2 separate regions of the Homo sapiens genome follow, and region 1 is linked to region 2. Evidence: fine-mapped expression QTL. A gene starts in region 2. The other region holds a variant in brackets. All regions are shown on one strand. Distances are from middle to middle.

What was found.
Region 1: its variant is fine-mapped to the expression of LINC02673 in thyroid (GTEx, PIP above 0.99). The same link has a PIP of 0.9 or more in testis.

The regions. Positions count from the first base shown.
Region 1 is chr10:27,315,094-27,320,486 of GRCh38, reverse strand. It overlaps the pseudogene ODAD2P1 and the pseudogene RNU6-666P. Among named protein-coding and RNA genes, the nearest start is that of LINC02673, 26 kb to the left of the region's middle. The variant A/CA (reference allele first, on the strand shown) is at 3,259.
Region 2 is chr10:27,341,414-27,346,806 of GRCh38, reverse strand. It overlaps LINC02673 (long intergenic non-protein coding RNA 2673), which reads right to left and starts at 3,371. Exons shown (of 2, transcript NR_187428.1): 1 at 2,156-3,371; 2 at 1,890-2,068.

The DNA.
Region 1 (5,393 bases), 26 kb after region 2:
ACAGCACCCGTAGATCTGGCCTTGGAGCTAAGGAAAGAAGGTCTCTCTAACCCATAAGGGGTACCAATCCTGTACAGACCCCGATATCTCCCGGGCTGGGTACACGCAGGTTCACACCCAGGTGTGAGCGAGATTGCCAAACTATACCTATAAGGCATTCAGAGGAGAGAGTCCAAAAGTCGAGAGAACGGACTAATTTAGCTAATTTCACAATAGCCCTGATCGTGGTCGGACTTGTTCCTAGGAAGATGCGAGAGGCTGGCCCTTCCTTCAAGAGCAGATTGCAAAAGGCAGCAGACCAAGTCAAGGCAGGTCACTGCCAAGAGAAGCAGAAGCGGAAACCATCGCCTCTGGCTTAGGCTGCAGAGCGGGAACCCGATTCTCTGAGTCATGTTTCTACCTAAACACGGAGAACAAAAGAGTTAGTGACTGTAAGGGTGGCGCGCCGTGCTATTTCTTGCTACTGAATGGTCCCCACTGGGACATTTTTGCTATGATTGCAGGCGTGGCCAGTGCCCCTGCACGGATTCCGGGAAGGGGTGGGGATAGGAGGTTCGCCCCGGGGAAGGTCACGCTCGGCGGACCCCGGGCTGGGCCTCCCCTCGCCCCTGCCCCGCCGCCTCCCCAGAGCGGCCGCTGTCCCCGCTGGCTGCGGACGGGCGGGCGCCAGAGGTCCCCAGTGCTGGCAGCCTGGTCGCACGCGGGGAAGAGCGAACCGCGGCCCTGGGCGCGGCCGAAGCGCCACTACTGTCTCCTCAAACTATATCTTTTCTTCAAATAAGGAGGAAATTCTTTCGCAAGACAAATAATGAGAAAAACACACTCAAAAATCACATTGAATCAGTGTTTGAAAGGAAGACAGAAAATACTCAGTTTGACTAAACTGTGTATAAAATACCACCTTGTTTAGTTATTTTAGGCAATACCAAACCTTTGTTTTAACCAATTAAAAAAAATCTTGGCCCAGTATGGTGGCTCTCGCCTGTAATCCCAGCACTTTGGGAGGCCAAGGTGGCTGGATCTCTTGAGCCCAGGAGTTTGAGACCAGCCTGGGTAATGTGGCAAAACCCTGTTTCTACAAAACAAAATTCAAAACTAAGCCAAGTGTGGTGACATGCACCAGTAGTCCTAGCTACTCAGGAGGCTGAAGTGGGAGGATCCCTTGAGCCTAGGAGGCGGAGGTTGCAGTGAGCCGCTGGACTCCAGCCTGGGCGACAGAGCCAGACCTTGTCTCAAAAGAAAAAATATATATATTGGCTGGGCACATGGTTCATGCCTGTAATCTCAGTACTTTGGGAGGCAAAGAGGGGAGGATCGCTGGATCCCAGGAGTTTGAGACCAGGCTGGGCAGCGTAGCAGGACCTCATCTCTAAAAAAACAATAATAATAAAATAGCCAGGCACGGTGGTGCACACCTGTTTTCTTTTCCTTTGCAGCACTTATCTCCTAATATTCGATATAACTTATTTGTTTTGTTAATTTGTCTCTCCTACTAGACGTAAGCATCTTGCGGCCACAATTATTTTTCCTGGTTTTTTTTTGTTGTTGTTGTTGTTTCCATTGCTGTGCCCTTAGCACTTAGAACAGTGTCTGGCACACAATGAGCACCTAAGTACTCAATAAATATTTAATAAATATTTGTTGAATGCATGAACTCTGCAGGGAAAAACAGGTACAAACCTGATAGAGACAAGGGTGGGAGCAAGATGGCTTAATGAATATCATTTTATATCACTTTGATTTTGAACTATATAACTGTATTACCAATATATTTTTAAATTAAGGAAACCATAGATGGAATGTAAAATTTTTATCTTTATTGAAACAATATTTTTGCTACCGGGGTTAATAAAATCACTATATACCTTGACTTCCATCTGGAATCTTGTTGTACTGAAAACAGGGTCAATTTTAGATTGGAGGAGTTGGGGGAGAGGAAGGGTAGGAAGAGAAATATATTTTGTCTTCCAGCAAATACATTAGAGACACAGAAATGTTTAAAATGTTGTCCCTGGCTTCCAGGAGCTCAATGACTAGTAGTTGGATCAATCAGTATTTAACGTTCAATATAATACTAATGTACTCAGAATATTATTCTTGCTTATTCATATATATACATATGATATTTCAATTTAAGCAATTATAAACATTGCAAATTTTTCTATTTATTCTTTATTGCTGCATTAAAAAAAAAGCAACCATGTTCCTTTTTCTCTTCAGTCGAAATTCAGAATAAGAGACCACGCAGTAGATAGACAGAGATTAAAATATCAGCTTACTACGGATAAAAGCTAGCCTGGAGAATATGGCTCAGGCGGTAGATAAAGAGGCATGATGATATGTTACATGCAAATGAATATCAATCAACTGTTGGAGCAAAATAAAAACTGTACTAACAGTTATGCAAAGATTCAGAGAATATATCACCTATCCATCCTGTTTGGGCAAAACACTTAAGAAAATAATCAAGACAGGGACTTGAAGATGGAACCATGAAAAAAGGGTGGTGGTGAGCAGAGAAATGGGGGAGTGTCAAAGGCAAAGACACTTTAAACAGAACAGATACACTTCAAGGGAAAAACTAATAATCTGAAGTTCAAAATATTAAACTATCTCAGCAAAATCTAGCAGCTACGTAACTAGATGCAAAACATAAAAACATTCTAAAGGTCTCATCTATTGGGATGAAGGGGAAAGCAATGGACAAATAGAATCTTAGTGAGGAAAAAATCGAAAAACTTGTTTTCCCATGAAAGTGGCAAATAAAGAAGATAACTATGAATGGAATTGTAGAATTGTTTTTCAGTCAAGTTTCCAAATCAACAGCAGTGTGGGGTATCGGGGAAAAGAGTGGATTTCAAATCAGAAAAAGATAAGAAAGTCTAGGGGAGGCCAACAGTAAAATAAAGATGAAGCACAATGTAAGACAGAAGGAATAAATCACATATATCAATTGTTATAATAAATGTGATCAGTCTGCGTACTTCTATTAGGACGGAAACTATCACATTAATCAGAATATGTTTATACCATGTTTGTTTTTATAAGAAGAACACTTTAAAACAAATAAAGATAGGTAGATAAAGGTAAAAAAAAGGTGAGAACAAAGCAAACTCAACAAAAAGAAAGCACGAATGGCAATATTAATGTCAGGTGAATTGAAATCAATAGTTATAAGTATAAATCAGAATAAATAGAATCATTGTTAAGATAAAAGCTATTTTTTGAAGAAAATATAAGTAAAAAATCTGTATGTAC[A/CA]ATAATACACAGTAAAATGTGTACATTTTAAACAATTAAAAAAAAAACTTGGATAAAAATATAATTAAAGTAGGAGCTTTTAATACACATCTCTTAAGAACCTAACTTATCTCTGTAATCCCAGCATTTTGGGAGGCCAAGGCAGGCAGATCACCTGAGGTCAGGGGTTTGAGACCAGCCTGGCCCACATGGTGAAACCCCGTCTTACCAAAAGTACAAAAAAATTAGCTGGGCATGGTGGCAGGTGCCTGTAATCCCAGCTACTCGGGAGGCTGAGGCAGGAGAATAGCTTGAACCTGGGAGGCGGAGACTGCAGTGAGTAGAGATTGCACCACTGCACTCCAGGCTGGGTGACAGAGCGAGACTCCGTCTCAAAAAAAAAAAAAAAAAAAAAAAATTGTTTTACTTATTTATACAAAAGTATTATATAAAATTTTAGGGACCATAATTAAAAACATATTTTTTCAGATAATATTTTCTGAGATTATAAACTACCTATAACTAATTCTGAATTATAAACTAAAAAATTGAATCAAAGCTATATATATATATGTACACACACACATATGTATATATGTAAACACATCCTATTTCCACATTGCTTTTTTAATTGCTATTGTATGATCAACATTTCCATAACCTTATGGTAGCACCACCAAGAGTAGTTTACTATCAGAAGTCTTACCTGGATTGCTATTTTGAGGATTTTTAGATATCTTTTGTTTATATTCCAAAAGACATTGATGAATGCTATGTATAAAAATGTAATAAATAAAATTACTATTTTAACATTTACCAAATTTTCCAAATTTATTAAGTTCTTAGACTATTTCAGACAATATCAGAGCTAACAGCAGAACATTACTTATTCCAGAGACTTTAAGTTTGTAAGCTCTAGGAACTTATTAAGCTGCTAATAAAAGAAGAAAGAAAGTAAGATGAAATACTCATGAATTGAGGTCAGCATAATTCCGTAAATTAACTAGAGTTAGCTTGGCATAATGGAAAATGTCCTTAATTCAGAATAAGTCCTAGTGTGGTAACCAACAGGTATTTTTTCTTGAACAAGTTGCTTGTTAGGCTCAACGTCTTCTAAAAATGAGAATTTTAGAGCCTGATTTCACTAGCTTATTATAAAGATTCAACATGATAATGTTTTTAAAATGCTCGAATAAATAGTGAAGCAATGAAATACCTTGTTGTTCAACCTTATTGCTGAAACTATTTTAAAATTCCCAATAAAATCCAATGTTTTGGCCTGGTGCAGTGGCTCATGCCTGTGATGCAAGCACTTTAGGATGCTGAGACAGGATGACAACTTGAGCCCAGAAATTCAAGACCAGCCTGGGCAACATAGGGATACCCTGTCTCTACAAAACATAAATAAATTTCAAAAAAAAGTTTCTTCGTAGGTTATAATGTTCAAAAGTTGCACTTTTCTGTTATTAACTCCTACTTTTGGTTATTAGATGTTCTATTCTTTGTGGCTTGTAATTCAAGGCATCTAAGCTATTTTATAATTTGTAATGAAATTTATTTATAAATATATGAATTCATTAAATTGGATAACCTGATTAGCCTCTATTACTGAGCTCATCAATCACACCAAGGGCAGAAAACTAATAGATGTCAGCATCTGGCTTGGACTATTACTACTCTTTATCTACCTCCTGAAACTCTGAATCAACAAATCTTTGTTAGAATGATGCTTAGTCACTATGCTCATTTCCAGCTGCTGTGGAAGAAAAAACGCTACCTTTATTTTTTGTAAGTTCCACAAGGAAGATGCAAGTTGGTATTTCCTCATTTCTGAGATGCACTAACAGCATATTGCACACAAGATCCTATGTGTTACCACATCTCATTTCATATATCACCTTGCATCAATATTTCTTGTATGAAAATCACAACTGCAATACTGGGTGACAACCATTTTGCTTTGACTCACACCATTTCCTTGGAGCTAGTTAGAAAGTAGTCACATGCCCTTTTGGAAACTGCAAGAAATATACAACACTTCACAGATCTGTGTGTCATCCTCGTGCAGGGGCCATGCTGATCTTCTCAAAGTTGTTTCAATTTTACTATATGTACTGCTGATGCCAGCATGAATCCCTACTTTTATACCTGAAGAC
Region 2 (5,393 bases):
ATGTTAAAAACCATTGTGCCAACCCTTTAAAATATTAGATCATTAGGAAGTCCATTTATTCCAGAAATGCAGGTGAGACTCATCGCGTTAGGAAATTCATTAACACAACAAATTATGTTAATTGAATTAATGAGAATGTCTTGTGTTCATAGATGGAAAAGAGATAATGCCAACATTTTAAAGAAAATTATTTAAAATAATTTAATTAGTATGGAATTGGTGCGAAATGTTTCTTAAAAACCTAAAAATAGATTTGTATAAATGAAAAATTATGACATTACATGATTAGGCAGGGTCAACATTATTAAGACATCAAAAGTACTTTAATTAATAAGTTGATTTTATGGCTGTATGGTATTCCATGGTGTATATGTACCTTTGCAAGGGCATGGACGGAGGTGGAGACCATTATCTTGCAAAGGAATTCAGGAACAGAAAACCAAATACAGCATGTTCTCACTTGTAAGTGGGAGCTAAATGATGAGAACACATGGACACATAGAGGGAAACAACACACACTGGGGCCTATCGGAGGGTGGAAGGTGGAAGGAGAGAGAGGATCGGGAAAAAAAACTAATGGACACCAGGCTTAACACCTGGGTGATGAAATAATCTGTACAACAACCCCGCCCTGCTGACAGACATTTCCCTATGTAACAAACCTGTACATCCTGCACATGTGCCCCTGAGATTAAAATAAAAGTCAAAAAATAAAAAAAATAAAATAAGTTGATTTTAACTCCAATATAGATAACATCTGTGTTCTGGATATAGAAATTTTATTGTAAAGAAGAGCAAACAAATTAAAATATCCATGAAAAGTCTGAGAATTAAAAGAGAGTGACTTCCCCTTTAAAATATTGTAGAGACTTGGAAATTAAAATTGTGTTGTGTTGTTTCATCATTAGTCTGAAAGACCAATGGAATACAACATTCAAAAATGGAATAAAACATATGTAAAAAAGTACTGTGCAATAAAAGCAGGAGTGTAGAAAGAAGAGGCGAAAGCTTGCTGCGTCTCATTGGGCACTGAAGCTCACAGACAGGCAGCAGGCTTTGTCTCTCACCACGTGTGCTTTCTGCAAGTCTGGTATTGCCACATGTGCAGGAAGGACAGTTACCATTTGAGCAAGAGCATTTTGGGGCTAATATGTGATTAATGTGACTTTTTCTGCCTCAATATTCATTGTAACCTGTTCTCATAGCCCACAGTATGTTTCCTGCTGAGCTGAGATGTTACTGCCATTAATAAAGCTGTATTGCCTGCAACTGTCCCCCTTTCTATGTTTGGGAGCTTTGAGAACAGTCACACATGATTGTGTAATTCTTTAGTTCGTCACTTGCCTGGTGAAAGACTTTCTGGGGGGCTCCTCTCCCTACTGGGCCCACAGGGGTAAAAAGCTAGTGAAGAGTTCTGGGACAGAACACTGCATGGGAACAGTGAGATGGGACACTTCAAGGTACAATGCTCTTAACTTATACCCAAACTGATGCAGACAGAAAGTTCCGCATGCCATCAGAAAATGAGAAAAAAAAAACACGTTTGGAAGGTGAAATCATCTTTGGTTGTGAAAAACACTATCTTCTTCAGAGGATGTGCTAAAATCAAAACTAACAGATGATCTATGTCTGGAATAAAAGTGGTCATTTGTTAACAGATGCTGGCGAGGCTGCAAAGGAAACTCCTATTCACTGTCTCTGGGAATGTAAATTAGGTCAGCCACTGTGGAAAGCAGTTTGGGGATTTCTCAAAAGATGTAAAACACAGCTACTAATTGACCCAGCAATCTCATTACTGGGAATATCCCCAAAAGAAAATACAACATTCTACCAAAAAGACACACGCAAACCTGCACACGCAGCACCTCTATCTAATACAAAAGTTGGCATTATTTTAAAAAGTTTTTATTTGTGAAAACTTTTCACCCATGGTAGGGATGAAAAAGTACATTCTCACTAAAGTCAAGAGGCACACACCCAAAGCAGCCCCGGGGGCAGGGCTGGGAAAGCCAGCAGCACCAGCATCCTCAGCACATGCCAGCAGGTGTTGGCTGAAGCAACAGGTGTCCTGGGGAAATGGAAAGGAGTTACTTAGACACAGTTGCTGATTCTCGAATTTCCTATTTTTCCCAGGATGTCTTTATCATTTTCTTACCCTCCTGTCTATGTTTAGACACATGGCCCTCAGAGGTGACTTGTTGGCTGCAGAACGAGGAATTCATCACTGTCCTTTGGTCAAGGTAGAGGGAGTTATGTAATTTCATAAACTGTCCATATGTGATGATGGAAATAAAAAAAGAACTGAAGAGATGGAGAAGATACATCATATTCATGAATAGAATAACTCAGTATCATCAGGATGTCATTTCTTACCAATGTACAGATTCAATGCACTTCTAATCAAAATGGAAGCAAATTATTTTATGGATATAGAAAAAGTAATTCTAAAGCTTATATGGGGAAGAAAAAGACCTTGAATAGCTAACACAATATTGAAGGAGAACAAAGCTGGAGGACAGACAGGCACTACTCAACTTCAAGACTTACTGTAAGGCTACGGTAATCAAGGCAGTATCATATTGATGAAAGAATAGACAGGTTAATGAAACAAGACAGAGAGTTTAGAAATAGCGACACATCGATATATTTAATTAATCTTTGATGAAAAAGTAAAGGCAACATGATGAAACAAAGGTTGGTTTCTTCAGAAAGTGGTGCTGGAACAACTGAATACCCACATGTAAAAAAAATGAATCAGATCTTACCTTCTCACAAAAATTAAGTCAAAATGAATCACGGACCTAAATGTCAAATACAAAACTATAAAACTTCTGGAAAATAACAGGAGAAAATCTAGACTCTCTTGGGTTTGATGATCTCTAGAAAAAAATGCCAAAGTTACAGTACATAAAAGAAATAAGTTCCTGATGGAATATAGATTAAAAATTTTTAATATACAAAATGAAAAAAAATCAGAAGAAAATATAAATGCCTATTTACACAGATACATTTTTATGTTGACAAAACCTTTCTAAGACTCTCAGAAATAAGCATTGTGAAGGTTAATTTAGCAAAACAAAAATTACCCTGCATTTGAGAAAAAATAAAAGGCAGCATACTTGTAAAATATTTACTACACATGTATGTGCATGTGTGTATATATAGCAGATTTAAAAATCTTCATTTTACAGAGAATTCACTCAAATCAACAAAAAAATCCTCTATTTAAAATTGGGCAATTTAAATTAGAGATGTAAATTGCAGATCTAAGAAAAGTACTTTGCCTCTAATTTAAAATTGGGCAAACTCCTTCTTCTAGATCTGCAAGTGACTTATGCACACAGGAAACAATATTTAGTGTTCCTCGTTAGAGAAGGCATTTAAGTTAAAACAGGAATCAAATACTGTTTTCTATCCACAAAGTTTATGAGGATAAAGAGCAGTGATATTTATACTGCTGCTTAAAGTTTAAGTTGCAGATGACTTTTCAAATAGACAATTTGGTGGTAAGTACCATATTTAAAAAATTGTATATGCCTGTTGGTGATCAATTCTATTACATTAAGATATTTTTAGAAAATAAGGAAACATACACACAATTTCTTTTTTGAGCGCTGCTTAAAATATCAGTGTATTAAGAAGAATCCATACAATGGCTTTTATAAATACATTTCAGTGAATTTACAGCGTGGGATAAAATGTGACCACTGAATGTAGAAACATATACAGAAGTATGTTGACATTTGAAAATGTATTTTGGTGTACCAAGTAAGGGTAAAGTTCAGTTTGTTTATACATACAGATGATGGTCTTGTGTTATCTGAAATTATGTACGAAATATGATAAAATTTGTTATTTGAGGGCATTTGTTTTAATATAAAATGTTTTTCCTTTTTATTATCTTTGATTTCTGCATTGAACAAGTACAATGTTATTAGTAAAAGTTTATTATTAATGAAATAATTTTGGGGAAGAGCAGGAATATGAATTTTGCACAGATTAAAATAATTTTTCACTTTCTATATTTTAATTTTTATTTTTTGTGGATTAGTATATTCTGTGAACTTTTAGCATTTTCAGAAGAGAAACTTTTTATCTGTGCTTGTTGATTTACATGTACATTTTATTAGAAACATATTTTTATTATATCTAGATTTATTATATATATGTCAATAATTACAGATTAATCATTTTAGTGTAGTTTTGTTATTAGGAAAATAAAGTAGCAAATATAAGTGCTTTATTTATAGCAGTTTTTTAAGATATTGAACTTCCCAACTATATTTATCCATTCTTTGAATCCATTTATCACATGTAAGCTGAATGCCTATTATGTAGAAGACACATTCTATTAACTCTCAAGACCCTTTCATCCTTAAAAATTTCACATTTACCTGCTCAGCCTCAGCAACATGAGAGGCTTAAAATTGGAGTAATAGGACTGAATCTCAATTGAAGCTTTTCCTCTCATCTTTCAAACAAAAATACTTCTGAAGTGAGAAATTAGTAAAAGATAACTACCAACCACGATTTTGGAAATTTATAACAGCTTTAAATAGTAATATGAATAATTGGAAATACCTAATTTACATGTACTCCCTCCATAAATCTAAATATGAATTAATATACATTCTGTAAATCTAAATACAAAATAAAATGAGCCATACCTATTCATTTGAATCCCAAGTTTTCTTTGGCTTGAAGTTTTTAAAATATTAAAGGAGTACTTTGTTTTAACAATTTGTTGTTTTTATTTCAACTCTCCTTTTGCGTAGTACTCTTAAAAGCTAAAATTTCTTTAAGTGTAAATCCTGTGATTAGGACTACCATCGTCCTGTTGTATATACCATATTCCACTTCATGGAAGGCACCCTGAATTGTGTGATGCCTCCTTATTTTATGTACCAATAAAAGATTGTTTAAATTTTTGCCAAATATAGTTCTAATAAATAATGAATTGTAAGTGGCATTTCAATGTCAGAGATGCTAAAATATGAGAAATTGAGCATCTTAGAACCGTTAAAATACAGTGTTATCTGTAACCTTTAAAACACACCACAAAGTAGGCATGATTGTATTATTTTACTTAAAATGTTGTCTTTGTTAAGTAGAAGTTATAATTATAATATCTAACAATTACTGAGCTGTTACATGTGCTAAAAACTCTTCAAAATACTTTGCATAGATTCTCATCGAGGCATCACAGTGATGTCCTGTGAGATAACTGCTGTATTCATCTTCACTTTATTGATGAGAAAATTGAGGCACAGAGAGGTTAAGAGACAGCTAGTAAGTGAAAGACCGTAAAGTTTATTCAAGCCCAAGTTGAACTGAGTCCAAAGGCCAAGCTCTTTCTATTCAAATAGGCCACTCTTTCATTAATGTAGTGAGTA